Linked DNA regions of Homo sapiens. The protein of the gene in region 1 interacts with the protein of each later gene in a pairwise test. Each region holds a gene or a part of one and is shown in the gene's direction. Other genes may lie near its edges.

Region 1 (10,922 bases):
ATTGCTTGAACCTGGGAGATGGAGGTTGCACTGAGCCAAGATCATGCCAGTGCACTCCAGCCTGGGCAACAGAGTGAGGCTCTGTCTCAAAAAAAAAAAAAAGAGGAACTATCTTTAGGGAATTGAATTATTTATTTATTTTTTATTTATTTTTTATTTTTTGGAGACGAAGTCTCGCTCTTGTCCCCCAGGCTGGAGTGCGATGGCACAATCTTGGCTCACTGCAACTTCCACCTCCAGGTTCAAGCAATTCTTCTGCCTCAGCTTCCCGAATAGCTGGGATTACAGGCGCCTGCCACCACACCTGGCTAATTTTTTTTGTGTTTTTTTTTTTAGTAGAGACGGGGTTTCACCATGTTGGCTAGGCTGGTCTCGAACTCCTGACCTCAGGTGATCCGCCTGCCTCGGTCTCCCAAAATGTTGGGATTACAGGCGTGAGCCACTGCACCCGGCCTATTTTATTATTTTCTTTATTTTTTTATTTTTATTTATTTATTTTTTGAGACGGAGTCTTGCTCTGTCGCCCAGGCTGAAGTGCAGTGGCGCGATCTCGGCTCACTGCAAGCTCCGCCTCCCGGGTTCGCGCCATTCCCCTGCCTCAGCCTCCGGAGCAGCTGGGACTAAAGGCACCCGCCACCGCGCCCGGCTAATTTTTTGTATTTTTTAGTAGAGACAGGGTTTCACCGTGTTAGCCAGGATGGTCTCGATCCTCTGACCTCGTGATCTGCCCTCCTCGGCCTCCCAAAATGCTGGGATTACAGGCGTGAGCCACCGCGCCCGGCCTATTTTCTTTATTTTTTAATTTTTATTTATCTATTTATTTTTTGAGACGGAGTCTCGCTCTGTCACCCAGGCTGGAGTGCCGTGGCGCAATCTCGGCTCACTGCAAGTTCCACCTCCCGGGTTCACGCCATTCTCCTGCCTCAGCCTCCTGAGTAGGTTGGGACCACAGGCGCCCACCACCACGCCTGGCTAATTTTTTGTATTTTTAGTAGAGTTGGGGTTTCACCGCGTTAGGCAGGATGGTCTCGATCTCCTGACCTTGTGATCCTCCCGCCTCGGACTCCCAAAGTGCTAGGATTACAGGTGTGAGCCACCGTACCCGGCCTATTTTATTATTTTCTTTTTGAGACGGAGTCTTGCTCTGTCCTCCAGGCTGGAATGCAATGGCGCGATCTTGGCTCACTGCAACCTCCACCTCCTAGGTTCTAGCGATTCGCCTGCCTCAGCCTCCTGAGTAGCTGGGATTACAGGCGCCTGCCACCACGTCTGGCTAATTTTTTTATTTTTTTAGTAGAGATGGGGTTTCACCATGTTGGTCAGTCTGGTCTCGAGCTCCTGACCTTAGGTGATCCACCTGCCTCGGCCTCCCAAAGTATTGGGATTACAGGCATGAGCCACCGCACCTGGCCTTTTTTTTTTTTTTAATTTTAAAGAGACTAGGCCAGGTGTGGTGGCTCACACCTATAATCCTAACACTTTGGGAGGCCAAGGCAGGAGGATCACTGTGCCCAGAAGTTTAAGACCAGCCTGGGCAACATAGTGAGATCCCCATATCTACAAAAAATAAAATTAGCTGGGCATAGTGGCATGCACCTATGATCTCATCTACTCTAGAGGCTGAGGTGGGAGGATCACTTGAACCCAGGAAGTGGTGGCTGCAGTGAGCCAAGATCACACCACCGCACTCCAGGCTGGGTGACAGAGAGACCCTCTCTCAAAATATATAAATATATAAGTAAATAGATAGATAGATTAGATAGGACAGGTCTATGTTGGCTAGGCTGGTCTTGAACTCCTGACCTCAATCCTTCCACCTCAGCCTCCCGAAGTGTGCAAGCCACGGTGCCCAGCCTAAGGAATTTTAAGTTCTGGTATTGAGGGGAAAACGCCTTTCAAAGTTCCAAAGATATAAAAGTTTTCTTTTAAAATAGTTGTATAGCAGCCTGGCGTGTTGGCTCACACCTATAATCGCAGCACTTTGGGAGGCTGAGGTGGGCGGATCACGAGGTCAAGAGATCGGGACCATCCTGGTCAACATGGTGAAACCCTGTCTCTACTAAAAATACAAAAAAATTAGCTGGGCGTGGTGGCGCACGCCTTTAGTCCCAGCTACTCGGGAGGCTGAGGCAGGAGAATCGCTTGAACCCGGGAGGTGGAGGTTGCAGTGAGCTGAGACCACGCCACTGTACTCCAGCCTGGTGACAGAGCGAGACTCCATCTCAAAAAAAAAAAAAAAAAAAAAGTTGTATAGCTTCTTTCCCTTGGAGAAATTGCCCACAAGGCTTCTCTGATTATTGAATTGAAGAAGCATTATTGGGAGGGGGAAAAAAAAACATGCTTAGGATGTTCTACTGTTTTAAAAAGCATTTTCATATATATCAGCTGGAAGATTCGTTGCTTTTTTTTCTTTTGTTTCGGTAGTTTGGTTAAATATTATACCAGTAGCCACTTCACCTCTTGTCCTAAGTCAGATTTGTCCAGTTCTTTACTTACCTTTCCTTTCAGTAAAGAAGGTAAAAGTTTTCCCACCCTTACTGCAAGATGCAGATGTTCTTTTCAAAAAGACGGATGTTGGCTGGGCGCAGTGGCTCGTGCCTGTATTCCCAGCACTTTAGGAGGCTGAGGCGGGCAGATCATTTAGGTCAGTAGTTCGAGACCAGCCTGGCCAACATGGTTAAATCTCGTCTCTACTAAAAATACAAAAAAATTAGCCGGGTGTGGTGGTGCGCGCACCTGTAATCCCAGCTTCCTGGGAGGCTGAGGCAGGAGAATCGCTTGAACCAGGGAGGCAGAAGTTGCAGTGAGCTGAGACTGCACCACTACACTCCATCCTGGGTGACAGAGGGAGGCTCGACCTCAAAAAAAAAAATACATAAAAAACAAAAAATAAATTAAAAAACACATATACGGCTGTGCACGGTGGCTCATGCCTGTATTCCCAGCACTTTGGAATGCCGAGGTGGGCAGATCACCTGAGGTCAGGAGTTCGAGACCAACCTGGCCAACATGTTGAAACCCCGTCTCTACTAAAAATACAAAAATTAGCCGGGTGTGGTGGCGTGGCGTCAGTAATCCCAGATACTCGGGAGGCTGAAGTGGGAGAATCGCTTGAGCCCGGGAGGTGGAGGTTGCAATGAGCTGATATCCCGCCACTGCACTCCAGCCTGGGCGACAGAGTGACCCCGTCTCAAAACAAAACCACATATACAATGTTCCTTAGTCACGTCTCATAAAAATGATACTTTGTACTGGTGAGGACTTTCTTTCTCTTATTTCTATCTTATATCATGTTATCTCTGCTTTGAAAAACATTGCAATCGACCTAAAATTGACTTTTTATTTGAGTTTCTTCATCTCTCCCACTGGTATGTGAAACACCATAAAGTTTCAAATTTGTGCTAACCCTTCCGTAAGAGTCTTCCTTTTTAAGTAATTTAACTGTCCTGTAACTCTCTGCCTTTATACCAAATGTGCCTTTTTTTAACTTTCAAAGGAACCAATTTGGAGTTGAAAATGAATGAATCTAGAGTTGAAATATCAATTGCAAGCCTTTTACTTTTTTTTTTTTTTTTAAGGAAAATATTTTTCTAAAAGTGTTTTCTTTTTCTTTTTCTTTTTTGGGGACTCTGTCGTGCCAGGTTGAGAAAGTGGCGACTTCTATAAGACATGGATAGATGCAAACATGTAGGGCGGTTACGGCTCGCCCAGGACCACTCCATCCTGAACCCTCAGAAGTGGTGCTGCTTAGAGTGTGCCACCACCGAGTCCGTGTGGGCCTGCCTCAAGTGCTCCCACGTGGCCTGCGGCCGCTATATTGAGGACCACGCCCTGAAACACTTTGAGGAGACGGGACACCCGCTAGCCATGGAAGTCCGGGATCTCTACGTGTTCTGTTACCTGTGCAAGGACTACGTGCTCAATGATAACCCAGAGGGGGACCTGAAGCTGCTAAGAAGCTCCCTCCTGGCGGTCCGGGGCCAGAAACAGGACACGCCGGTGAGACGTGGGCGGACGCTGCGGTCCATGGCTTCGGGTGAGGACGTGGTCCTGCCGCAGCGCGCTCCTCAGGGACAGCCGCAGATGCTCACGGCTCTGTGGTACCGGCGTCAGCGCCTGCTGGCCAGGACGCTGCGGCTGTGGTTCGAGAAGAGCTCCCGGGGCCAGGCGAAGCTGGAGCAGCGGCGGCAGGAGGAGGCCCTGGAGCGCAAGAAGGAGGAGGCGCGGAGGCGGCGGCGCGAGGTGAAACGGCGGCTGCTGGAGGAGCTGGCCAGCACCCCTCCGCGCAAGAGTGCACGGCTGCTCCTGCACACGCCCCGCGACGCGGGCCCGGCTGCCTCGCGCCCCGCCGCCCTCCCTACCTCACGCAGAGTGCCCGCCGCCACACTCAAGCTGCGTCGCCAGCCGGCCATGGCCCCAGGCGTCACGGGCCTGCGCAACCTGGGCAACACCTGCTACATGAACTCCATCCTCCAGGTGCTCAGCCACCTCCAGAAGTTCCGAGAATGTTTCCTCAACCTTGACCCTTCCAAAACGGAACATCTGTTTCCCAAAGCCACCAACGGGAAGACTCAGCTTTCTGGCAAGCCAACCAACAGCTCGGCCACGGAGCTGTCCTTGAGAAATGACAGGGCCGAGGCATGCGAGCGGGAGGGCTTCTGCTGGAACGGCAGGGCCTCCATTAGTCGGAGTCTGGAGCTCATCCAGAACAAGGAGCCGAGTTCAAAGCACATTTCCCTCTGCCGTGAACTGCACACCCTCTTCCGAGTCATGTGGTCCGGGAAGTGGGCCCTAGTGTCGCCCTTCGCCATGCTCCACTCAGTGTGGAGCCTGATCCCTGCCTTCCGCGGCTACGACCAACAGGACGCGCAGGAATTTCTCTGCGAGCTGCTGCACAAGGTGCAGCAGGAACTCGAGTCTGAGGGCACCACACGCCGGATCCTCATCCCCTTCTCCCAGAGGAAGCTCACCAAACAGGTCTTAAAGGTGGTGAATACCATATTTCATGGGCAGCTGCTCAGTCAGGTATGTGTGTGCCTACCATGACAATGAGAGGCTTGTATGTTAGCTTGGGCTTCCTGTGAGTGCCTTCCCCGGGTTATTGGGCTAATAAGAGTAGCCCACATTTGCTGTGATTATGCAATTTGGAGGGTGGCCATTATACCTTTCATTCTGCTGTACATTATGATGGCCTTTTGGGGAAACTTGCCTAGTGTCTTTCCGGCCAGATTTTTAGTTTAACTTGCCACATCGCTTAATTTTCAGTGAATATCTTTAATTGTTATTGAAGATAGGGGTAATATAATATTCTCATTGTTATAATTAAGTACCCATTGTTGGTGTGCCATCCTTTGATCAATTTGAGGGAACAGAGTTTGCTTGTAACCCTGGTTCCATAATAGTTTGAAAGAGCAATCTCCCTTCTTTACATACAGGGAAGGTAGGTAGCTGGGAGCATGCTAAAGGCCAGTGCAAGCCTCCTTCCTGTTCCCCATTACCTTTTATTTCCTGCATCTTTAGCCATGTAACCTAAGCAAAAATGCTTAGACAGGGCCTTGCGAGAATATGCAGAAAGAGTATTTCTATAGTTAAAAAAAGGCAGGTGTGCCGGGCACGGTGGCTCATGCCTGTAATCCCAGCACTTCAGGAGGCCAAGGTGGGTGGATCACCTGAGGTCAGGAGTTAGAGACCAGCCTGGCCAACATGGTGAAACCCTGTCTCTACTAAAAATACAAAATTAGCCGGGCGTGGTGGCGCATGCCTGTAATCCCAGCTACTTGGGAGGCTGAGGCAGGAGAATTGCTTAAGCCCAGGAGGCGGAGGTTGCGGTGAGCCGAGATTGTGCCATTGGCACTACAGCCTGGGTGACAGATGGAGACTGTCTCAAAAAAAACCAAAAAACAAACAAAAAAACGTGGTGGGGGGTGGGTTGGTGAGCAACTTAAGAGTTTCAGGTAAAACCTCTACACTATGTGTCTTGGTTTTTAGGGCTTTGAAAGAATGATGAATGGGATGGAAAGGGAAAGTTTAATTAGGCTTTTGTTTTTGAGCATGTAAAAGGGGGAGTATTTATCAGCACTTCTTCTGTCTCCCCTCCCCTTAGGAAGAAAGGTGCACCTGGGAAGGTTATAGTGGGAATGGAGGTCTAATCACAGCACTTTGAGGCTCTGCAGACAGAGGGGTTCAGTGTAGGGCTTCTGCAAGTAACAAAGGCAAAAAGAGAGGCATGCTGGGCCCCATGGAAGGTCTGAAGTCAAGAGGAGGAATGCCAGGGTGAGGGAAGCAGGCAGGGACCTGCAAATCTGTGTCAGACTGATCCCTTGAGTGACTGCATGATAACTTGCAGTCTGTACTACTGTACTATTGAATGGTAGAGCATATTTTGGGAGAGGTGAAAAGGGGGGTTAGTATAGTCTCTATGCAGTATGGTTTTTAAATTCCAGCTAGCATCCCATAGTTAGAAATGTACATCAGAAATAATATACTCTAATTCTTTTAAAGTTATGTTTATTATTTTAATATTACTATTTTTTGAAAATTATACACTTAGTTTTGATAAAGTGTGTCTTTTATGAAGCAAGTAAAACTGTACACAGGAAGCATGGAAGTTATATAATCTGTAAATCAATCTTTTCATTCTAGGTCACATGTATATCATGCAATTACAAATCCAATACCATTGAGCCCTTTTGGGACCTATCCCTGGAATTCCCTGAACGCTATCACTGCATAGAAAAGGGGTTTGTCCCTTTGAATCAAACAGAGTGCTTGCTCACTGAGATGCTGGCCAAATTCACAGAGACAGAGGCCCTGGAAGGGAGAATCTACGCTTGTGACCAGTGTAACAGTGAGTGCTGTGTGGAGGAGGGGGCGTAGTGGGGAAGAATAATTGGAATATCAGTTTAAGGTGCTGCTTTGTCCTCTTTAGTCAAAAGTAACACTAATGATATTGAATGGTTCTAAAGCATCTTTTAAAGATCTTTTTCTCCCATTTTTCTAAAAACAAAAAACATGGACTTGTTTTAATTATGTATTAAAAAACAAAACAAGGCTGGGCGTTGTGGCTCACGCCTGTAATCCCAGCATTTTGGGAGGCCAAGGCGGACAGATCACTTGAGGTCAGGAGTTTGAGACCAGCCTGACCAACATGGTGAAACCCTGTCTCTACTAAAAATACAAAAATTAGCTGGGCATAGTGGCAGATGCCTGTAATCCCAGCTACTCGGGAGGCTGAGGCAGGAGAATCGGTTGAACCCAGGAAGCGGAGGGTGCAGTGAGCCAAGATTGCGCCATTGCACTCCAGCCTGGGCAACAGAGCAAGACTCCGTTTCAAACAACAACAACAACAACAACAAATGAAACAAAGACCTAGGAGTTGATTGACCTCCTGATTGACATTAGTTGTCATCTTGGAAGGGATTTTAAAGTTGTGGCTCCTGAAATGGGGACTCTGAGAATGTTAGTACTTAGCTTCTTAGTGCTGTGGGGCTGCTGCTTAAATTCATGAATGTAGAGTCTGACAGTTCTTACTTAATCTAAACCCAGATGGTATAGCCTTTCTGAAGGGTGCGATATCAGAAAAGCAAGCTTTTGTACTGAACTGGTAGACTTAATGTCTGTCAAAAGTGATGCTAAAGATTGGTACAGTGGAACCAAGAAAGCAAGTCTTAAGGTGCATTGCTCAGTGGCAGCTTCATGAAATATTTTCTGCATTTTGTTTTTATTGTTCACATGCCTGAAAAGTTCACATTTCAGAGAGGGTCATACGGAAGTATTTCTGTGTTGTCTGTAATTTTAAAATGGAACTCTTACATATGGTTACAGAGGCATGTTATCAGGGTCCTTCCATCTTGCCACACTAACACTTAATGCTTCTGCTAATCCAGTATGGACAGAGGAAATGCAGAACAAATATGTGGATGCTTATGTTTGGGGTTTGTGGCATATATAGATTTGGAAACTAAAAGTATAAAGTTAATGGACTGTGCAGAGACCTAGAAATCAATTTTCAGTCACATAATAGTTTAGATTACCAGTTTTGAAGAAAAAAAAAATCTTAGGCCAGGTGCAGTGGCTCACGCCTGTAATCCCAGGACTTTGGGAGACCCCAAGGTGGGCGCCACTGCACTCCAGCCTGGGTGACAGAGCGAGATGCTGTCTCAAAAAAAAAAAATAAATAAAAAATAAATAAATAAATAAATAAATAAATAAATAAATAAATAAAATAAAATAAAATAAAATAAAAAATAAAATAAAATAAAATAAAATAAATTGTGGGAAACCTGTTCCGCTCTTTGAAGAATCAGAACAAAAATCAAAAGTCAGGCTTGAGGCCAGGTGTAGTGGCTCATACCTGTAATCCCAACACTTTGGGAGGCCAAGGCAGGAGGATTGCCTGAAGCCAGGAGTTTGAGACCAGCCTGGTGGCATAGCAAGACCTCTTTTAGGGAAAATAAAAACAAAAACAAAAACCACAAAGTTATGCTCGATATCATTTTGCCATTTCAAAACAAAATTTGAAATTTTATACCTGGTTAACTATAGACTCACCTATCCTGTTCCATTTTGAGATACAGAGTCAGGTGAATCAAATTGTTTCATTAGAGTAATATTTAAAAAAAAAAAAACAGTGATTCCTGAAGCCTTTTACTTGTAAGGAACAAAAGAATATTAACAGCTTTAACTCCATCATTTTTGGATATGATAGATTAGGCAAGAAATAACTTTTGTTTATCTTTACAAGAAAGGATTGTTCTTTGGTTGTCAGATATGCCAATTTATCAGGATTTCTCTAGGCAAGTACAAATAATGGCAGAGAAGGAAACCTATGGTGAGGGGATGAGATGCATTGATCTGTTGCCTGTGAAGTTTCAAAACTGTCAGTCTTCTACCTGTCTTCCTGGCCAGCTTAATGAAATGGAGACAGAACTGATCAATCTCAGTTGAATCAGTAATTTCTTTTTCTTTGTGAATTTCATTTTAGGGAAACAAAGCCTGACTCTATATTGTCTTCATCTTAGCTCACATACTCCCTCTGCTGAAGGTGGCAGTCACTGCCAGGATTCCTAGCCAGAGCTGCAGTAATTTTCAAAAAAATGGTGAATAGGAATATAAAATAAGGCCAAGCCCCTCTGTGAATTCCATTTCTGTTCATGCCCCCACGTATTGTGACGACTACACCCTGGTAAAAGCTTCTCCTATGGCACACTCATTCTGATGCAGTCTATTATGAGAAGTTACACCTCCACATCCTATTGTCACAGAAAGCTCTGTGATACATCATCTGGCTGTGATTTGCTACCTTTCATGAGTAGTACAGACAGGACTTGGAATCAGATGCCCAGCTGCTCTTCAAACACTGAGCCCATGATATCAACAGCTCAAGACAATTAACAGGGACTGCAGTAGACCACTAATTTTCTACTCTCATCCATTTACCAATTTAATATAACAAAACAGTCATCAGTAAATGGTTACAGGAAAGGCTTCTGATAGAAACTAAGAGAACTCTATTTCCATTATTTATTTGCTGAAATTTAGAAATGCATTTCCTCAAGGCTGGGCACAGTGGGCTCACACCCATAATCCCAACACTTTGGGAGGCCAAGGTGGGAGGACTGCTTGAAGCCAGGACTTCGAGAAATGCATTTCCCCCACAGTTAGAAACAAAATTAGAGACTGATCACTGGTTCTGCTTTGGAGTAGATGAATTTAGCCTACCTGTCAGCTTTGTCCTTGCATGTCCAGCAATGTGCTTTTATCTAGGAAATATGTTTCAAAAACTACGCACAGCATAAAAATATAAAACAGTTTATTTTCTAAATGTTTGAATATGCCATAAGCAAATCATGCTAAAGAAAAAAATGTGTTTAAATACTCTATCATTTAGTAATCTTATCCTTTTTTTCCTAAGCCTGAAAGATATGCATTATTTCCTATTTTACTGGTGAGGAAACTGAGGTTCAGAGTTTTGAATAACTTATCCATTAGCACACAACTAGTTGTGAGCAGGAAGTAGAATTAGGCTTACCTAGTGCAAACAAAAAGCTTTTTAAAATCATATTGTGGGGTATCATAATTGAAGTTATAAGCCATTGTGAAGACATGGAACCTTAACATATGCTTCTACTCTATGTGCTTGCTGCTGCACGTTCCATTATATTCCATTATACGCAAAGTTGCTGATGGCAAAAATTGGAAAGATTTGAGTTGCTTGTAACAGTCGACCCAAATAACAATGACTTAAAATGAGAGATTTTATTGTTCTGTTACATAAAACAAGTCTGAAGGACATTCAGGGCCAGCATGGTGGCTGCATGGTCATCAGTGACCCAAGCTATTTCTGTTTTCTGTTTTACTATCCCATTGCAAGACTTCTGTCTTCAAAGTTACCTTTTGGTCCAGGAGGAATTCCAGCAGTTTCAGATAGTGGGAAGGCCAAAGGGATGTGCCTTACAACTGAGTCAGCCCTGTCTAAGCAGAGTCCCACACAGTCATTCCTTTCATCTTAGCCAGAACTTCCATGGCCACACCATGCAGGCGTGTGAAGCTGGGAAATGCAGTCATAAAGAGTGTCACATTGCGCCCCCCAAAAAATTGAGGTTCAGATACTGAGAAATATGGAGAATGCATATTGAATGGCAAGTCACTGTCTCTGCCATAGCTAGAAAAAACTCCTCACAACCTATGTCTTATACCTTCCCAAACCACATAGGCAAACGACGAAAATCCAATCCCAAACCCCTTGTTCTGAGTGAAGCTAGAAAGCAGTTAATGATCTACAGACTACCTCAGGTTCTCCGGCTGCACCTTAAAAGATTCAGGTGAGCTTGCTGTGGGAGTCCCAGCTGGGTGAGAGCTGTGGGAATAGCTGCTCCAAAGGCTTTGGTGAGGGCAAATGTCTTCTATGGTGTTGGGAGGGG
Region 2 (10,922 bases), on another chromosome or scaffold:
GGGCTCTAGATGGTTTATTTTTGTAAATTGCTGGGGGAACCAAGCTCCTCTTCTTGTTTATTGTTATCGAGGGCTGGCCAGTTGCCTTGTACTACATAGCACTGCATTGAACAAGGTAGACTTGTCTTTGCCTTTGAGAGGACACCACCATCAACCAAACTGGGATGGTTTTTATTAACAAAGGTGTTAAGAACTGTGAAGAGTCAGAGATTTTATCCCACTTGTAAGCTAATGAGTTAGCCTGCCCCAGTTTCACGGATGCTAGTGGAGTATACAAGACACAGAGAAATAAAGGACAATTTATTATGTAGCAGTAGCCAGAATATTAGCATCTTTGCATCAGTTTCCTGAGCCCCAGTTCCTGTGGGGAGACATGAAAAGCTCTATGTGCCTCTTGCACACATAGGAAGTTGCTTTCAAGAGAGGAACCCTAAGCTTAGGAAACCCAAATCTCTTATAATGGCCAGTAAGCATGCCTGTCCTTTGCTTTGGATGCAACACTGTGTTTGTTGTCCACAAACATCCTTGAAAAGATAGTCTGGAATAAAAGCAGTCAGTGCTTTTGCTCTCAAGGCATGCAGAAATTTGAGAGACGCATGGAAAGTTGTCTCCCAAAAAGGGTGTGCTCGTGATTTTGCCTGGGCTTTAGAACACTGAATTTAAATTGGGTTCTTTGTATTTAGTTTACCTGGGATCATTTCATTCTGTTCTTCCGAACCAAAGACAACCCCTCATCCTGATAAGTTACTCAACAAATGCAAAATGTTGCCAAGTAGACTGGTAAGAAAACATAGCTGGTTTAATATAAAAAAGGTAAATCTCTTCCAGGAAAACTATCTTTGTAAGGATCAAGAGCCTTAAAAATGTCTCTATGCTTTGACTTGGTAATTTTACTTCTGGGAATCAAGTCTAAGACATTACCAGTTTTTAAAAGTACATATGTGCACATTGTTCAGTATAATAAAGTATGGTATATTTCCGTGATGAATTGCTATGTATGTGTTAAAAATGAGGTTTCTTTTTTCTAATATTAATGCTATGAGGAAATAAATGTCTGTTGTGTAGTAATTGACCAAAAGTAGAATCAAATTTTGGGGATAAGTTAATATATTTGGAAGATTTATACATCAAATTATAAACAGTGGTTGTAACATTGGTTGGTGAGTTCTCAGTTATTCTCACTTTCTTTAAACTTCTTCTTGAATTATACTAGTAAATATTGGTAATTGGGGGGAGATGTGTTCTTTTTTCTTGTGTTAGTTGCACAAGATAGTTGTGCACAAGTTGGTGGAAGATAGGTGGTAGTATCATTCCGAAAGCACACTACAGTACCCAGTTTTGAAAGTTCATTAATAGATAGCGTAAATAGGAGTGCCTCATTAACATTCCAGCCAGCTTCCACTCTGTGCCTGCAGTAACCTGTGTGCCTGCAACTTCCTAAAAACAGAAAACGCTGAAGGTACCATTTGCCCCTAGCCAGTTACTGTTATCCATTTTCACACTGCTATAAAGAATTGCCAGAGATTGGGTAATTTATAAAGGAAAGAAGTTTAATTGACTCACAGTATCACATGGCTGGGGAGGCCTCAGGAAATACAGTCATGGGGGAAGGCGAAGGAGAAGCAAGTGTCTTCTTCACAAGGCAGCAGGAAAGGGAGAGAGCAGGGGCAACTGCCACTTATAAAACCATCAGTTTTCATGAGAACACACTGACTATCATGAGAACAGCATGGGGGAAACTGCCCCCATGATCCAATCACCTCCCACCATGTCCCTCCCCCGACACTGGAGATTATCATTCGAGATGAAATTTGGGTGGGGACACAAAGCCAAACCATATCACTAGTCTTATGAGATTGATTGTCATATCCTCTGAATCTAGAGGATGTAGAAAGGAGGAAACCAGTATTTTTGTTCATTGAGTATCTTCTGTATACTGGTATTTTATTTAATGTTCATAAAACCCAAAATGTGAGATCTAAATCTATTTTCCCCATTTTACAAATGAGGGCATTTAAATTGAAAGATTAAGTACCAGTCCAGAGTCACTTAGCTGGTACTTGCCAGTGTCTAGATTTCAGCCCGAGTATCCAGACACCAAAATCTCTGCCCTCTCCAGTGTTACCCGTAAACAAGTTTTGAAGTTGTAGTATTTTATTTTATTTTTTTGAGATGGAGTCTTGCTCTGTTGCCAGGCTGCAGTGCAGTGCCGCAATCTCGTCTCACTGCAACCTCCGCCTCTCAGGTTCAAGTGATTCTCCTGCCTCAGCCTCCCAAGTAGCTGGGATTACAGGTTCATGTCACCACTCTCGGCTAATTTTTGTATTTTTAGTAGAGATGGGGTTTCACCATGTTGGCCAGAATGGTCTCTATCTCTTGACCTCGTGATCTGCCCACCTTGGCCTCCCAAAGTGCTGGGATTACAGGCAAAGTTGTAGTTTTTGATTAACTATTGGAAAGCACATTTTGGCTCGTAAGTGTACATTTAAAGCACGTTTTTGAACTTGTGTAAGCAAATAAATTAGGAAGTAGGATCAAAGCAGGGTAGGTGCCTATAAATGAAGGCTTATCTAACCAGGTACATTTCTCAGCATTGAGACACTCACTCAGTCTTGGTTTTGCTTGTGTCTTCTTAATATTCAGATTATAATCCATATCCAGTCAAATATGTTGGAAAACCTGATAAAGACTCTAAAAAATGCTGCAGAAGGAAATTTATCAAAATTTGTGAAAAGACATGTGTTCTCGGAGGAAGTGGTGAGTATGCAAGTGCTGCAGAAATCATTTAAAAGTGAAAGGACACTCTTAAAAATGTCCACTAATTTCTCAATTCTAAAGCTTACCTTAAAGAAATTGCCAAATATGGCAGCTTCTCTGTTGTTCCTGTTTTAAGACTTCCATGTATATGTGCAAAGATTTTTTTTTCTTCCAACAGAATATATCCTCTGAAATTCTAGGAAACTTTTCCCTTTTACCTTATTCTTTTCTCCACATTGTATTCATGGGCCCTGGCTCTCTTTTTCTTCTAGATGACGATTTTACACCTTTTTCCTTTTCCCTCAAGCCTTCAATACCTTCTCCTCACTTTTCACTCTCAGTTGATCACTGTATTTCTTGTTTCTTGGAGAAAATAGAAGTAATCAGAAAAGCATGACTGCTACATAGAGAGCCTCTGGCCCCTTGCCCTATATACCCATGATGACTGGATACATCTCTCACACCAGCCTCTTCAGTCATGCACTGGATCCCATCCTCTCTGACCCACTCCACAGCATCAGTCCAGAAGTTGACTCACTCTTTTGGCTATCATCAGTATCCCCTTCCCTGTGGGTCATTCTTGTCAGCAAACAGTAGGATATAGTATCTCTCATCTTAAAAAATAAAAAGAATCTTCTGTACAAATGAAAAGACAGACCATATGTTTAGATAAGAAGACCTAGCCTCATAAAAACTCAGTTTTTTTCAAGTTACTGTGATAATGTAATATGACTCCAATAAAAATATCACTTTGTTTTTTCTGTAAAGGTTAGTTGAAAGAACAAACAAGACTAGCTAGAAAAACCCTGTGAAAGAGGGGCAGTAAGAGTTGCTAGGTCTAGCAGATATCAAAGCATGTTAAAGTTTCTATAATTCAAACTGTGGCTTAGGACATGAATAGGGCAGCTAATGGGACAGAATAGAAAGTCCGGATACAGACCAAATTGCAGATACAAATTTAGTGTAACATAGAGACAAGCATCTCAAATCAATCTAAGTGGATAGACTAGTAAGAAGTAGTACTAGGATAAGTAGAGAGCCAATAGAAAAAGATACAGTTGTATATATTCTTATACCACAAACCAGGATACATTTCAAATGGATGAGAATTTAAATTTTTAAATTGAAATACACAAGTACTAGATATAAACATTAGTAGATTCTTTAATATCCTGGGAGTGGAAAAACTTAGCTTTCAGTCAAAATCCAAATCAGTAAAAGAAGTGATAAATTTGACTAAATAAAAATGTTAAAACCTGTTTTTTCATGTGGCAAAAAGTCTACAAGCAAAGTCAAGAGGTAAGTAATCAATTTTTAATCATACTGACAAAAGGCTAACTAGCCCTAATATTTCAAGAGCTCTTTTTGAGGCCAGGTGCGGTGGCTCATGCCTATAATCCCAGCACTTTGGGAGGCTGAGGCAGGCGGATCATGAGGTCAGGAGATCGAGACCATCCTGGCCAAAATGTAACCCCGTATCTACTAAAAATATAAAAATTAGCTGGGCGTGGTGGTGCATGCCTGTAGTCCCAGGTACTCAGGAGGCCGAGGCACGAGAATCGTTTGAACTAGGGAGTCGAGATTGCGCCACTGCGCTCCAGCCTGGCGACAGAATGAGACTCCATCTGAAAAAAAAAAAAAAAAAAAAAAAAAAGCTCTTTTTGAAAATTCTGAGAAAAGAACCAACAACCCTGAAGAAAAATGGGTAAGAGATGTGGACAGAATTTACTAAAAATGAATTGTGAATGGCCTTTAAACTTTCGAAAAGATTCTCTTGCCCATATCAAGAAAATGCTAAATAAAACTACCCTATGATATTTCTCTTGAATAGAAATCTGCAAGTTTGCCAGCCAACTTGGTTGGTGAGGCTCTGAGGAAATGGGCGCTATCATCTGAGGAAATGCTGCTACAGCGAATACAGATTGGTACACTACAAATACTTTCACCCTTTGACTCAATCCTCCCACTTCTTGGAGTATATTCTAAAAATATACTGGCAAATATAAAGAAGTTGTATGTACAAGGCTATTTGTTGCAATCCAATTTCTAATAACAGCAGACTGGAAAAAAGCCCAAATTTCCATCACTAGACAACTAGTTGTACAAATTAGGGTCTGTTCGTACAAAGGACAGGAAATGAGGAACAGCTACATCATATACTGCTATGGATTACCATTTATATGGATCACTTAAATATGTTTTTAAGTGACAAAAGTAAGATGCAAATGGGTATGTGTAGTATGCCTTAAGAAGGCGGGACCATATAGTTATTTTTATATATTTATGTTTTTGAAAAACACTACGATAAAAAAAACAAAACTTAAGTGGTTATGTTGATTTCTTTTTCAGATCTTTTTTTATAGAAATACTGCTGTTTTTGTATGTAAATTTTGTAACCTGCAGCTTTACTGACTTTATCAGTCCTAAAGGTTTTTTTGATTGAGTCTTTAGGAACCACAGTTAATTATTATGCATATTTCAAAAATGCCAAAGAAGTATATTTTAATGTTTCACCGCAGAAAAAGACACATTGGTAGATGATGGATAGTTTTGTTAGCTTGACTGAATCTTTCTACAGTATACACATAGATTGAAACATCACATTGAACTTTATAAATATACACAATTATTATTTGACAATTAAAGTAATTGACAAATTATTTTTTAAATTTAATTTTAAAAAATTAAGAAATAAAAGTTTTGAAAGTGAAAGTGAGGGACGGAAACATGAGTTCTCCGAATGTACCTTGTTTATGTATTTCATTTAGGAACCATGTAAATGCTTTGCAGAACTGTAAAGCAGAGTTAAATAAAAATGAAGAGAAAAAACAGTTCCTAAAAATTGAAAGTGAAATGAAACAAATGAACCCATGTGTCACATTGATGGCTTAAGTACACAAATTGGAATTCTTGTAGGTCATTTGAGATGTAGTAATTTGTGTATCTCTCATAGCATGTAACTTAAGGTGAAAAACAGAAGTGTAAAGAAATTGTACGTTATTGACAGTGATCATATTGTTAGTAATAATACTGATATTGTCATTTTGACCAACCAAGTGGCCTGTTGGTTGGTCCTCTCTTCCTCCCTCATTTCTCCTGCCTCTCTTTTATAGTTTGGTCCAGGCTGAAGGCTGAGACAGCAGGATTGGCACTAGAGGGCAGTGGCTGCTTCCTCCTCCTGCCACACTGTCGCCTTCCCAGCCCTGTTCCATTTCCTCACTTCCACCCAAAGGCTTCTTCCTTCTGATAAAAGGGAGCTTGTCAGGAAAATGACTAACTGGATATGGTTGATTTAACGCTTCTTTCTATTTGCAGTTTTAGCTCTGTGTAGGCTGTGATCCACCCAACCCTTTTGGAGTAAGTTTAGAAAAGTAGGGAAAGTAGAAGCATGAACAGATTTTAAAGTGCATAGTCACGTGTGTATGTGTACATGTGAAATCCAACTTCCATTTTCTCAGCAGCATTGTTGTTAACAACCATTCCTTAGACCTGAACCATCAATACATTGTCACCCATTTATATGGCTAAAGCACCCGAACAAACTTTATATTGAAAAATACTCATATAAGACTCTTGTACTTAGAAAATGAACCCTCTAGTTCAGTGTCTTCCCTCTGGTTACTGTGGGACCACTCAAGGAACAGCTTGATGAGAAATGGATTGATTCATATAACTCCAGTAGCTTTTGAGCTAGTTCTAAATATATATGTGTGAGATTGCAAGTGGAGTCCTATATTGTAAACGTCTGCATTTTACAAAGTGCATTTAATGCTTATGCCAGCAGTTATTTAAAAAGTGTTATGTAGGGAGATAAGACTATAAACTATCATAGGTGCTATTATACCACCACAGGACTATTGAAAATAATTGCTGATTTATTTCTGTAGTTATGTAACAGAACTGTTACAGTTTTTAGATCAAAATTACCTCCAGCTTGGCATGTTTGCTCTGCTGCTTTTAGAAGCCATATGCTGCACATTAAGTCATTTTCACCTTGAACATGAGGACTAAACAAGCTATTCTTTTTTAAGAACATTAAGAAGTGCTTAAGCTGCTTGTCTGCAGGCATGGTTGGGAGCCATTGTCTCAAAGGAAGATGTGCAGGTGCAAACAGTGTTATATATTTGGAAGAGGTGGAAGAGGGGCAAAGGATTTATTAGGAAGCTTGATCCCAATTAAATTCCATCAAGAAATGTGTTGAGATTGTACCCTTGATAAGGATTGAACTAAGTAAAATGCTGATTTTATTCAGAAAGCAGCTTCACATTCTCCATTCTAGTTCACCCATTTTGGGGGTTAAATACCATCATATACTTGTGACTCTACTACGTATGCCTCTAGCCCAGACCTCTCCTTCATGCCCCAGACTTGTATATCCAACAACGTTCTAGACATACCCATTTAGATGGTTCACAGCCGTCTCAATCAGGTCCAAACAGAGCTCTTGATTTTCCCTTCCAAATCTCGCCTCCCTGTCTTCTCTATCAGGAAATGATAGCACCCATCATCAAGCTATTAAAGCCCCAATTGAGAAGATAGCTTTGACACCTCCCTTTCCTTCACCCATTCAAAAATAAGTCCTTTCAGTGTAAACTCCAAAATATACCTCACATAAGTGTACTTCTCCTTCTTTTCTGTACCTTTCCCAATCTCAACTACCATTGTTTCTTATCTGGGCTATGGTGTGGGCCTCCAGAATAGTCTCCACATTTCTGTACACTCCAGTTCATTCTCTGCAACTTTTTGAACAGAAATGAGATCATTTCCCACTTTAGATGCTCTGATGGCTTTTTTAGAATAAATTTCAAAAAACTTATTGTGGAATATATATAAAGCCTATGTAATTTGGCCCTGCCTCCTCCTGCTCTAATCATTACATTGAACAAAGTTGATTCCACTGGTATATGACCTCCTTTACTTGGTGTGTTTCATTATATATGATGTGTTATTTGAACCCCCCTTTTTTTATATTAGGTATGATTTTCAAGTACTAATTTTGAATTTTGTGTGTAGCTTTTGGAATCCCTCATAGTAATACTGCTGTCTGTGTGCCCCAGTACCCTGGTTTTCACGATTTTAGGTGTATACCATACTTTTTTTTTTTTTTAAGACTCACTCTGTCGCCAAGGCTGGAGTACAGTGGCACGATCACAGCTCACTGCAGCCTCTGTCTCCTGGGCTTAAGTGATCCTCCCACTACACCAACTAATTTTTAAAAAAATTTTTTTACAGACAAAGTCTCACTGTGTTGCCTAGGCTGGCCTAGAAATCCTGTGCTCAAGCAGTCCTCCTGTCTCAGCGTCCAAAATTGCTTAGATTAAAGCATGGGCCACCTCGCCTGGCCTACCATACATTTTTGTTCATGTCCATTTCTTTTTCTTAGGGTTATAGTAAGAATAAGGAAGAAATCTTGCAGAGATGTAATGATGTGTTCTTGCTTTTTTCCAGCTGGCCAAAGTGAGGGAAAAAGTGAAGGATGTGCCTGCCCTTGTGGCCAAATTTGATGAGATCTATGGGACACTGCACATCACTGGCCAGGTCACCACTGATTCTTTGGATGCTGTGCTCTGCCACACCCCCAGGGACAGGAAATCTCACACGTTGCTATTAAACAAGAGGATGGTCAGCCGTCGCACCTTCCAGCCACTCAGCCAGTCCCTGTTGGCTGAGTAACCCTGGTTTCAGTCCACCTATGGATCTGAGGGGCCTGCTTCTAGTGAGTTATTACCTTTCCTAAGAAGCCAGGTATCGCACTTCAGCAGACAGTGTGCTGACACTTGGTCTTCTCCTGAAATTCCCAAATTCACTGAATGGTACCATGCCGATCTCTGAGAAGTTATGTTGCACCACTGTGAAGGTCTAGATGCAAGCTTGGCTCCCTCAGAAAGGCGCTTCCCTTTTGCATGGCTGAGGATCCTTGAAGGAACCTGGTCAGTCTCCGGTTCAGCTTCCGACACCAGAGTGGAACCCAGTAAGCACCATCAGGAATGAATTTCACTACAAGTGTGGATAACTCTGATTTTCAAAGGAGTAGTTACTTGCAAATTACATCCTTGCTGAATTCAGGAGGTATGAAACCCTATTTTACCATGTTAGAAAACAGCCCAGGATTTTCTCATTGCTCTGCCATCATATATGTCTATGACTTGAGCCCTTATTTTTCCATCTGCAAAACAATAATGCCTATGTGTCTTTGCATATAGATTTGAAATCTTCATTCAAGGTTTAGTAGGATCATATTTTCTCAAAAATAAGAGAAATAAGGTTCATAAGGAAACTTGCTGGGATTGTGGTTGTTTTGTTTTCTCAGCAGCACAAACAAAACCAGAATTTAGCCTTTAGGACTGCTGAGTAAGCCAAATTTAAATGACTACTGCTTTGTTCATGGGTAAGCCATGTGCTTTTCAAAATAAGTGCCACTAAAAACCACATAATGCTTTGGTTTCTATGTGGATAATAAATATTTAGTCCTATAGTTTATCTTATTTGTTAATGATTTTTCTCTCTTGAATGCCTCATATTAAAAAAAAATGTGCCATGAGAGCAGTTCAAAGCTGCTTCATACTTATGGTCTCAAATATAGTATGTGTTGAATTTTACCGTGTCTGGTCACCAGTGAGCAGAAGATACACAGTGACCCCACCTCACTTGCTCCTTTTGTTTCAGAAAGCCCAGAGGGTTGCTCAGACCTCAGGAGCTGTCTGCCAAGATTGCTGCAGACTCTTCATTGCCACCTCCAAAACTAAGACTGTTCACTTGGTTGTTGTTCTAAGGCAAGGATTATAGAGTCAGAAATTGTAGACTAGGAGAAGTCTTCTGAGTCTCCTAATTAATTCCTTCATCTTTCAGGTTAAGGAAACGATCCATGCAAGAGAGGCCCAATCTCAACTGTAGACTGTGTCCCAGTAAGAGAGTCACAGCTTCAGGTGTTTGCTGAATCCAGGTCTGAGATCACAATCCCACCTGAGGACAGGATCCGCATATGAGAGTCGCACATTGGTATAATTGATTTGTGGTAGAGCTGAGATTAGAATCCAGATTCCTAGTCTAGTATCCTTCCCACTGTACCACATTATCTCTTTTCAGAGGGGAAAAAGGAGCAGCTCTTAAGAAACAGAATACTAAGGGCCCCCATTACTGTGTGGCCCTGGGCATCCTCAGTTTCCTCATTTGGTAAATGGGGATAATGGTACCGACCTCTTAGGCTTGGTGTGAGGATGAAATGAGATAGGGAATATAAAGCAAGCAGATAGTGGCTGGCACATAGTACATGCAATATGTTTGAAACTAGTTAAGGAATTATAAAAACAAATGAGTTCTTCCTTCTGCTCAAAAATATTGAATTTCTTGTCCTTGTGCTCTGTGAAACATTGAACAGCCCCATTTAGAGAAACAAATTCTCTGCCCTCATAGAATCCTAATTGTTTCTGTATGTGTCTGGTGTTTTGCACATGCAAAAAAAAAAAAAAAAGTGCTTGGATTTCTCCACTTTCAGTCTTAGGGAATAATAGGGCATGCTTCCTGTCCCCCCAGCTTACTTTTCATCTTCTCCAACTCTCACAGTTCAAATGGCTCCAGTGCTGTGGGTGAGTGTGGCCTTGGTTGTTAGCTAACAACCATTCATTAGCGAAATAACCAAATTTTGTGAGCAGTAAATAGCAACAAGCTTCCCAATCCCTGCTGCCCAGCCGACTGGAAAAACTGGTCCATTCCACCTGTTCCCAGAAACCTCAGTACAGAGGTAGCTATATGCATAATGTTCACCCCAAAGTAATAGATGATTTTAAAGTCTTAAAAGTCCAATAAAACAGTGTTCAGTATAGGTTATGATAGGCATTTCATTCTTTAAAACTCAGTAATTCCTTTGAAAAAATGATGTTTCTTTATAAGCAGTAGTTTGCCTACATCATTTACTTGTTTTTTTCTGCTTTGGGGTTTTTTTTTTTTTGAGACACAATTTCACTCTGTCGCCCAGGCTGGAGTGCAGTGGTGTGATCTCAGCTCACTGCAACTTCTGCCTCCTGGGTTCAAGCAATTCTCATGCCCCAGCCTCCCAAGTAGCTGGGAATACAGTTGTGTGCCACCACACTGGCTTATTTTTTGTATTTTTTTAGTAGAGATGGGGTTTCACCATGTTGGCCAGGCTGGTCTCTAACTCTTATCCT
Region 3 (10,922 bases), on another chromosome or scaffold:
TGGAATGCACACAGCAGGCATCCTGCTGCGCAGTTCTGTGTCTAGTTAATAGTATGGAAGTTCAGGACATACCTCCAAAAAAAAAAAAAAGCTAGGATTTTCCTCAGAAAGAATGCAGTATTTTATGTCTTAATATTTGTGGTTAATTTTGTTACTACAGACTATTCTTGTTCAGTCCTGGTATCCAATCACAGTGGCCACAAATTCTAGAGAGCAGAAGAAAATATTGGCCAAATATTTGTTAGAAACTTCTGGTAACTTAGATGGTCTGGAATACAAGTTACATGATTTTGGCTACAGAGGAGTCTCTTCCCAAGAGGTAAGTAACTGAAACCAACCTCATTTAATATAATGTGGATTGTTGGTTAGAGTACCACTGTAAACTTTTGGGGACGTTATTGAGATTGATCTTGGTTCTAAAATTCCAAAGATTCAACCAACAGATACATATTCAGTACCTACTACTGTGTTCAGGGTACATGGGATATGTCCTTCAACAGATGTCCCTGTCCTTTATATATTAGATGGATGGACAGATGGATAGCCAGAAACAGACATAATATATCAGATGTGAAATAATGCCATAAAGAAGCTCAAGGCAGGGTAAGGGAAGAGAGAGTGATGAAAAGTGGGGGTGGGACACTGTTAAATAGGTCTCTTTGAGGAGATAATAGTTGATTTTTTAAAATATTTAGGAAAAACTGAATCTTTGTCATTAGGAACTGTTATGTCTGACAATAAATACTTTCCTAAGAGAAAGACAATTCTTATGGGAGCTATGCTATATTCCTTAAATGTGGTTGGCTGCATCCTGGTATTATTAATGTGGGTTTCTTTCTGTTTTGGATTTTGGTTTATGATTGATTTTCCAGACTGCTGGCATAGGAGCATCTGCTCACTTGGTTAACTTCAAAGGAACAGATACAGTAGCAGGACTTGCTCTAATTAAAAAATATTATGGAACGAAAGATCCTGTTCCAGGCTATTCTGTTCCAGCAGCAGAACACAGGTAAAAAATTCTGTTCATTTTTTAAAACTACTAATTTTTTCACTCTTGTATTTGTAACTCAGTGACATTTTACCTAACTGCAGAGCCAGGTACCTACAGTACATCTTCATGAACTTGAGCAACACAAATTCAGTATTTATACAAAAGTATAAACATTAGTCTTAGAGAGGCAGAGAAATTTTATCCATGCTAGAAGAAACAGTTTAAGAGCTTTTTTCCAATACTTATATTGCCATAGAAGTTTTCTTTTAAGGAATTTTTTTTCAATTACTGTATTGTCATATGTAGGTAGATTTTATTCATTAAATTTAGAAGCACTCACTGTAAGTACCAGCCACTTTTTGCCTTTTCCCTGTCCTCCTACATGACCTTATCTATATTTGCCCTAGAAATTGTCATCTGTACTGTACCTTCAGTTGTAGATGAGAAAGCAGGACCTGTTGAGGAAAGAAAGGGTGTTCAGATTCTTTTTACGCTTCCTTGTCTGCTTTCAGTAAACTATCTCCAGTTACCCAAGAAAGAAATTACAATCTAAACTGCAGCTGCTCTGGTCCTAGAGCTAACTTTATTAAAAGTAAATCAGGTTGTTTTTTTTTTTTTTTTTTTTTTTTTTTTTTTTTTTTGAGACGGAGTCTCGCTCTGTCGCCCAGGCTGGAGTGCAGTGGCGGGATCTCGGCTCACTGCAAGCTCCGCCTCCCAGGTTCACGCCATTCTCCTGCCTCAGCCTCCCAAGTAGCTGGGACTACAGGCGCCCGCCACTACGCCCGGCTAATTTTTTGTATTTTTAGTAGAGACGGGGTTTCACCGTTTTAGTCAGGATGGTCTCGATCTCCTGACCTCGTGATCCGCCTGCCTCGGCCTCCCAAAGTGCTGGGATTACAGGCGTGAGCCACCGCGCCCGGCGTAAATCAGGTTTTTTAAATGTTTGCCAAACCTTATCACTGACTTTTATAACAAAATTATTTACTATAATCATTAGGGAATATTTAAGTTCTGCTAATACTTAAAATTGCAGAGTGCTAAAACCAGCAGTGAGTTTAGAATCAAGCTAAGCTTTATTGTTGCTACTATTTGAGGCATATTAGTTGACTGGTGTTCATATGCAAGGCAGTCTACTGGGTGCAACAAGGGTTAGAAGGATATTTTTAAAAAACTGACCCTATTCTCAGGATGAAAATAATACACTAGTAATAGTCTGCTCTGTTGGTTAACTCCTCGTAAGGAGGTACAATTAAAATGCTGTAGTGTTGCAAGGGAAGGAGAGGAAGAATCATATTCCTTCACTAGCAGGATCAAGAAAGCTTTTATAGAAATATACAAAATCTTCACTTCTTGAAGGATTGGTAAAATTTAATAGCCAACATTGGGCACTTATTCATTCTCTGAGTAAATATTTATTGCATGCTTATCTTGTATCAAGCATTGTGATGAAAGCACAAGAATGAAAGAGGAGGGAGAATGTTTAGAGAATAAGGGCTGAAACACAGATTTTGTAGGGAGCGTAGGGGAGACTGAGAAGACAGGTTCAGGTTAGTAAGGGCGCTCATATTTTGACACTGAATGTTAACTATGTGCACATCATGCTAGCTATTCTAAATCAGGCATTTTCAAATGGAAGCAGGCACTGACATTTTTGAGCAAAGACGTGATGTTATGAGATAAATATCTTAGGGGACTTTTTTATATTTTTATAGCAGGATATCTATCCTATGGATTGAAAAAAGGAAAAATCAGAAGGTAGTCTTTATAGGAAGCTATTCCAGCAGTCTTAAGGTAATGAAGTCCAGACCAAGGTGCTAAATAAATGGAAAGAAATAGGTAAACATGAGCAATGGCTTGGGAGATAAAATTGCTCAAAGTTGGTAATTTGAGTTGGGACTCAGTAGAAAATAGATTCAGCTGACGTTTATGAGCATTGTATTAGTAAGGCCTTGTTGAACACTTTTACATACAACTTTCAAGACTAGGAAACTGGGAAAATAAGAGTGTCTTTAACAAAGTTTTAAGAGTTATTTTTAGTTTGGCCTTAGATGTACATACATCTTTTAAAAATCTAACATAGTATGCACATATTAGACTCTTCGTTGATGGTTATTTCAAAGTAGTAACATCATGATACGGAGGACAAGGATAATATCTTCTTTAGGACTTGTTAAAATGAAAAGGATACTGTATGTGGGCAAGGGATAAAAATCCATTTTATTTTTATGGTCTCATATTGATTGCATTTGTAAAATTTGACTCCTTATATATTCAAATGCCTCACATGTTCTTAATAGAATGTCTTTTAAACAACAGCGTAGTATAGCAAAAAGAGGATTGGACTGAAAGTTGGGAAACCTGGGTGACCTTCCGGCTGACATAGTGGGTGGCCTTGGGCAAGTCACTTATCTCTCTGTTCTTCATTTCTTCCATCCAACCAAACAAAAGGAGGAGCTAAAGTTTTACATCTCCAACATGACAAGGTCATTGATGATAAATGAGCTACTATCTAAATAACTTTAAAATAAGAGAACTCTATAAATTTAGAGGTTTACCACTATTGTATGTATCTTAATAGATGAATCTGCACCTAAAAATATTTAATTACAGAAGCTTTTTTTCTCAAACTTTGGAAAGGTATCAAATTTAATTTGGTGCTTGAAATTAGGATTTATGGCATTGGTAGAATTCATTGATTATTTATGATCTTCATATATCACATACTGTACTAGAAGAATAGAGGTTATGATTGGACTAGACAGAGAGTGCCAGAGCAAGTATCTGTGGGATGCTGAGATGAAGATATTCAACTTTCTATCTAACAAAGTAGATCCAGAGCCTGGAAGAAAAACAGAGGCTAAGATACAGATACTGGAAACCCTCATGCAGGGACTTTTTTTTTTTTTTTTTTTTTAAGCTTTTGAGTGTTTCACACAAGGTATGTTACAGAAGACAAGTGCCTAAGTCAGAACTATGAGAAATATTGCCATCTGACAGGTTAGATTAAAGAAGGAGAGCACAGCATCTGGGAAGACTGAAAAGGGAACCATAGAAATAGGGGAAAAAAGGTGAAACATGGGAGATGTCATTGAAGTCAAGAGAAAGAAAGCATCAGGAAAATTCAGGTGTCATGGAGAAAGCAAGTAAGATGGGGACAGTGAAGTTTGCTAGACATGATACAAGTAGATCGTTAGGTGACTTACTGATACAACGTTATAAGTAGTGACCCCTTAACTGTAGGAGTTAATTCATACGTTGTAAAGTTCTCCAGTATTGGTATTCATTGATCTTAATTCTCTCCTTTTTAAAGAGAAAAGTTGCAGACCTGAATATGAAGAGGAGCTTCTCTTCAGTCATATCTTAATTTTCCATTTAGCCTACAGATGCATGAAGTAGAGAATTGACATCATAGCTACTGGCAGCCTCTGTAGCTGTTAAGAAGAGTGTTCACTAATGAGTTTTATATAAACAGGTTCTCTCTCAATTTTGGATTCGGGTAGTAGTCTTTACAATCTTGAAATGTGCATGCTGCACTACCCCAGGTATACCATTGACAGTATGGGGAAAGGTTCTAAGTCTAGTCCTTTAAAAAAAAAAACACACACACACATTGTATAAAGTGATTATTTCAGACATAAAGTCTGACTCTTCAAACAGTTATGAGTTAAACTTATACCTACTTGGGCTTTATAATAAATGAATGTGCTATCTTTTTATTATTTACTGAGGAGAACAGATTAGAGGCGGACTAGAAAATTAGGGAGAATGACCAATTGCTTGGCATAATTAAATGGTAATTTTCAAAATTAAGTTGTTTGAGATCTTTTAAAATTATTTACATTATATATTAACAAATATTTACACAGGTTGAGCATCCCAAATCCAAAATGCTCCAAAATCTGAAACTTTTTGCTCAAAGGAAATGCTCATTGGAGCATTTCAGATTTCAGAACTGGATTTCAGATTTCAGAACTGGGGATGCTTAACTGATAAGTATAATGCACATATTCCAAAATCTGAAAAAATTTGAAATTCAGAATACTTCTGGTCCCAAGCATTTCAAATAAGCGATACCCAATCTATAATTACATATTGAATACAAATCTATCCCGTAAGAACTGATATTAAGGACATTGCAAAAATCACTATAACCATTCTTATCCAATAGAAACTCTCATACTTTATTTTCCATCTTAATTATGTTTTGCTTAAACTAAGTATTTGAATTCTTATTCCCTGGGCATATATTAATTCGTAGTAGATAATCTGCAAACAAAATACATGACTTCCTATTACTAGCCACTTGAAAATATAACAGGTAGTTGACTATATGTATGTATGGTATAGTATAAATAATTGCCTCTAAGTATAAGATTTTGAAAGGTAAAAAAACAAAATGTATGTCTGTACTATTATTGGTATATAGTTTCAAAAATTCACAGAAGGGAGCCAGGTGCTCTCATTGCCTAACAAAATAATGGAAATATGTATTCATTCTAACATCTTGACATACAGTATAAAGGGCACTCAGCAAGTGCTTTTTAGTTAGACTGATTTTAAATGAGTAGATTCAGGAATACCAGAAAACACACACACACACAGATAATTGGTTGAAAATACGAGGTTAGAAACTTAACCATTGAAGAGGAGTAAGGCTACTTAAAGCGTTAAAAACTAATTGGGTAAGGTATGGTTGACCCAGCTACTTCATTTGCCTTACGATGTATATTCATTAAACTAAGTCACTCACCTTCTCTGTGATGTTGATGGTTTGGTATAGTAAACATGAGATATGATTAAAGGTGATTCAGGGATAGATCAAGTGTCTGCCTAAGTAAATCTGTGTTTTCATTTTTTTTTCTAGTACCATAACAGCTTGGGGGAAAGACCATGAAAAAGATGCTTTTGAACATATTGTAACACAGTTTTCATCAGTGCCTGTATCTGTGGTCAGCGATAGCTATGACATTTATAATGCGTGTGAGAAAATATGGGGTGAAGATCTAAGACATTTAATAGTATCAAGAAGTACACAGGCACCACTAATAATCAGACCTGATTCTGGAAACCCTCTTGACACTGTGTTAAAGGTAAATTTTCATATGTAACTTTATTATTAGAATCCCTCTGTAGGCCAGCTGCATCAATACTACTTTTCATTTATATACACACAATTTCAGAGCTGTGTGGACCAGTCCCCTTTATTTTAGAGTTGCAGCCCAGAGAGAGTAATAGATTTGCCTGAGGTCACACAGTAATAGCACAGAAGGATACCAAGACTTATGGATTGTTTTACTGTCAATTAGACATTTGAATAGATATTTTGTTTTCTGCTTACCTGCAAAATTAATTAACAGCATTGCCATTTTAATTAATCCTATGATTTGGGCACCAAACTTATTTGCAGTTTGTTTCTTTTTCAGCATAAGTCACTGCTAGACCTTTGAAGTTGTTAGCACAGAAGAAATAGGAACAGGGTGATGTGGAATAAAAATAATTCAAAAATACTCTTCAAGTGGAGGTTCTTTAGAAATACTGTTGATTCATAATGTAGCAGTGTTACTTTTTGTTGTTAATGTTCAAGGACTTGGTTTATCTTCTTCAAAAAGTAGTAATAGCAGGCTTATTTGATGCCTACTACTAGAAAAATATTTTAGGTGATTTACATAAGATACGCCATTTAATCTCTACAAAAAAAAACAGTGATAAATATTACTGTCTCTGTTATAGAAGAAAAAAACAGAGGCTTAAAAAGGTTAAAGTAACTTGCTCAAGGTCACACAACATGAAAGATAAGGAGTCAGATATCCAGTGTAGGTCTTTTGGCTGCAGCCTTGCTACTTGACCACACCATTTGTCAGTTAATGAGCAGATGATACTTACCCCTTAAGAAAGGGAAACAGAATTAAGGAGGTCTTTTCTTATTCTATTAAATGATAGGCCAATCTGAAAGTCTTGTCTTAGCCTGCAATATTTGGTTTTAGCAAACTTGATAGGTTTCATGTTTTTACTGTTACGTAATAAAAAATGTACACAGCTAGTTATGAGAAACTGATTTCATCAATGGGGAATTTTCTCTTTGTTAGAATCTTTAATCAGTTTATTTAGGAAAAAGAAATGATTGTTGTGGGAAGAGAATGTATTTCTTTTGTTTATATGACCAAGCTTTCTGAGAAATTTTAATTTGGTGTACAAAACTTTTAGTAGTTAGTGAATGAGTAAGATGATTTGTGTATTGTGCAGTTTGGCTTTAAGAGCAAAGGAGAACTTAGAGACTATGGGTTCTAGATGCTGTGTCTGCCTTTCACAGTTTCTCTGAACTTTGTGATTGAACTGGATTCATATTGGAGTTATATATCAGACAAAAACCAAAGTCATTGGGCACAAGCAGAATAAGTCCAAATTAAAAGTATAATCATGAGTTTGTTAAATAATGCTTTATATACTTCTTTAAAATATACTTATTTAATATTAAGGATTTTTTTTTCCTTGAATCCATATAATTTGAAAGGTCTAAGGGGAAAAACTTGTTTTGAGCCACTTTATGATGTGAATTCACTTCATAGGAAATAACATGCTTGTTTTTAATGTACTTTAACCCTTTAAAGTACACTGGACCAAATTTTAGAGAGCATATACATAGTGTTATAAAATTTTTAAAGTAGTTAATTTTTATATTCTCGATTATCAAAGCAAAATCATTTAACTTTGAAAAGCTCTTATACTTGTTTTCAGCTTTAGTTATTTGTGTTGCATGTGTATTTTTCCATATAGGTTTTGGAGATTTTAGGTAAGAAGTTTCCTGTTACTGAGAACTCAAAGGGTTACAAGTTGCTGCCACCTTATCTTAGAGTTATTCAAGGGGATGGAGTAGATATTAATACCTTACAAGAGGTATGTGTTTTATATTAAAAGTTTCAATAAGGCATTTCTTATAATTAAGTTTGTTTATGTTTGATAAAGAACACAATATAAATACAATTTTAAGTCTTTGTAAGTGTTTATGTTGGTATAAATCTCTGTGCATTGCTTAAAGTTTAGAAATAATAGTAGTTTAAAATACAGAGGTGCCAGCCAAGCCATACTTACTCTTCCAGTTGTCATTGGCCACCCTGAATGATGAATCTAAAGAAGTATCATTGTGAAACAAGGAAATGTCAGTCAAGAAATATTCCTTGGAATATAAAACAAAGCCTTGACTCTGCTGGCATAGGTCTGAGTTTTCATAGACTGGAGCTTCACAAATCTGTAAAACTCATAATATTAATGGGTGCTTTTTCAGAAATTATAGAATAGCTGCCACCTCTTCTAAATTAAGCATTGACTGTCATCAGTATTAGATTTAGCCAGATAGTATAAGTGTTATGCAGGCGTACCTCATTTTATTGTGCTTTGCAAACATTGCATTTTTTTACAAATTGAAGGTTGTGGCCACCCTGTGTTGAGCAAGTCTGTTGGTGCTATTTTTCCAACATGTATTCACTTCATGTCTGTGTGACACATACTGGTAAATTCTCACAATATTTCAGACTTTGTCATTATATCTGTTATGGTGATCTGTGATTAGTGATCTTCGATGTTACTACTGTGATTGTTTTAGGGCACCACAGGGCACACCCAGATAAGGCAGTGAACTTAATTGATAAATACTGTGTGTGTTGTGACTCCTTCACCAGTTACCCATTCCCTTTCTCTGCTCACTTCAAGTTTCCCTATGCCCTGAGACACAACAGTATTTAAATTAGGTCAATTAATAACCCCACAGTGGCCTCTGAGTATTCAAGTGAATGGAAAAGTCACATCCCTCTCATTTTAAATCAAAACCTAGACATGATTAAGTTTAGTGAGGAAGGCATGCTGAAAGCTAAAATAGGCCTCTTAAGGCAAACAGTAGGCCAAGTTGTGAATGCAAAGGAAAAGTTCTTGAAGAAAAATCAAAGTGCTACTCCACTAAGCATATGAATAAGAAAGTGAAACAGCTTTATTGCTGCTAGGGAGAAAGTTTGAATGGTCTGAATAGAAGATCAAAGCAACCACAACATTTCCTTAGGCTAAAGCCTAATCCAGAGCAAGGCCCTCGTTTCAATTCTGTGAAGCCTAAGAGAGGTGATGAAGCTGCAGAAGAAAAATTGGAAGCTAGCAGAGGTTGGTTCCTGTGGTTTAGGGAAAGAAGCCATCTCCATGAGTGCAGAATGAAGCAGCAAGTGCTGATGTAGAAGCTGCTGCAAGTTACCCAGAAGATCTAGCTAAGATCATTGATGCAGGTGACTAAACAGATTGTCAGTGTAGAGGAAACAGCCTTCCATTGGAAGAAGGTGCCGTCTAGGACTTTCATAACTAGAGAGAAGACAACATCTGCTTTGAAAGGACATGCTAACTCTCATTAGTGGATAATGCAGCTGGTCACTTTTAAGTGGAAGCTAGTGCTCATTTATCATTCTGATAATCCTAGGACCCTTAGAATTTGCTGAATCTACTCTGCCTGTGCTTTATAAATGGAACAACAAAGCCTGGATGACAGCATGTCTGTTTACATCATAGTGTACTGAGTATTTTAAGCCCACTGTTGGGACCGACTGCTCAGGAAAAAAAAAAAAAAAAAAGATTGTTTCGAAATATCATTGCAGATGGCATCTGAGATCTGATGGAGATGTACAAAGAGGTTAATGTTGTTTTTCATGCCTGCTAACACAACGTCCGTTCGACAGCCTATCCATCAAAGAGTAATTTCAGATGCTATTATTTAGGAAATATATTCTTGGCCGGGTGTGGTGGCTCACGCCTGTAATCCCACACTTTGGGAGACCGAGACAGGCAGATCACGCAATCAGGAGATCAAGATCATCCTGGCCAACGTGGTGAAACCCCGTCTCTACTAAAAATACAAAAATTAGCTGGGTGGGGCAATGCATGCCTGTAGTCCCAGCTACTCAGGAGGCTGAGGCAGGAGAATTGCTTGAAGGGAGGCAGAGGCTGTAGTGTGCCAAGATCACGCCACTGCACTCCAGCCTGGGCAACAGAGTGAAACTCCGTCTCAAAAAAAAGAAGAAATATATTCTTAAGTCTGTAGCTGAAAGGGTTCACCATTCTAGATGCCATTTAAGAACATCATGCTTCATGGGAGGACGTTAAAATGTCAGCATTAACAGGAGTTTGGAAGAAATTGATTCCAACCTTCACAGATAACTGAGTCTTGATTTGACTTCAAGACTTCAGTGGAGGAAGTAACTACAAATGTGGTAGAAATAGCTAGATAACTAGAAGTGGTGGAGCCTGAAGATCTGACTGAATTGCTGCAGTCTCATGATTAAACTTGAACAGATGAGGATTTGCTTCATATGGGTGGATACAGAAAGTGGTTTCTTGAGATGAAATCTACTGCTGGCAAAGATGCTGTGAACATCGTTGAAATGACAACAAAGGACTTCGAATATCAGTAAAATCAGTTGATAAAACCAAAGCAGGGTTTGAGAGGATGCACTCCCAATTTTGAAAGAAGTTCTTGTGTGGGTGAACGCTATCGTACCAAACAGCATCGCAAGCTACAGATAAATCTTTCGTGATAGAGTCAATTGACGTGACAAACTTCATTGTTGTCATTTTAAGGCATTGCCACAGTCACCCCAAAACCTTCAGCAACCCTGATCAGTCAGCAGCCATCAACAACAGGGCAAGACCCTCCACCAACAAAAAGATGACTCACTGAAGGCTCAAGTGACCATTAGCATTATTTAGCAATGAAGTATTTTTAATTAAGGTATGTATTTTTAAGACATAATGCTATTGCACACTTAATAGACTACAATGTAGTATAAACATAACTTTTATATGCAATGGGAAATCAAAAAATTCCCGTGACTTGCTTTATTGCAGTGGTCTGGAAGCAAGCCCACAGTATTTTCAAAGTATGCCTGTATTGTCTTAAAATTTT

Evidence for each region.
Region 2: the proteins of USP49 (region 1) and PTCD2 interact in binary tests that used the Homo sapiens proteins (3 or more experiments, as listed by UniProt).
Region 3: the proteins of USP49 (region 1) and NAMPT interact in binary tests that used the Homo sapiens proteins (3 or more experiments, as listed by UniProt).

Annotation. Positions count from the first base shown.
Region 1 is NC_000006.12:41,799,731-41,810,652, reverse strand, and holds part of USP49 (ubiquitin carboxyl-terminal hydrolase 49), read left to right. Parts: intron 1-3,641; 5' UTR 3,642-3,669; coding exon 3,670-5,025; intron 5,026-6,642; coding exon 6,643-6,847; intron 6,848-10,714; coding exon 10,715-10,823; intron 10,824-10,922. UniProt on the Homo sapiens protein: Deubiquitinase that plays a role in several cellular processes including transcriptional regulation, cell cycle progression or innate immunity.
Region 2 is NC_000005.10:72,349,998-72,360,919, forward strand, and holds part of PTCD2 (pentatricopeptide repeat-containing protein 2, mitochondrial), read left to right. Parts: intron 1-2,643; coding exon 2,644-2,757; intron 2,758-8,205; coding exon 8,206-8,430; 3' UTR 8,431-10,922. UniProt on the Homo sapiens protein: Involved in mitochondrial RNA maturation and mitochondrial respiratory chain function.
Region 3 is NC_000007.14:106,258,551-106,269,472, reverse strand, and holds part of NAMPT (nicotinamide phosphoribosyltransferase precursor), read left to right. Parts: intron 1-160; coding exon 161-319; intron 320-872; coding exon 873-1,009; intron 1,010-4,301; coding exon of another isoform or gene 4,302-4,320; exon of another isoform or gene 4,321-5,807; intron 5,808-5,855; coding exon 5,856-6,081; intron 6,082-7,765; coding exon 7,766-7,885; intron 7,886-10,922.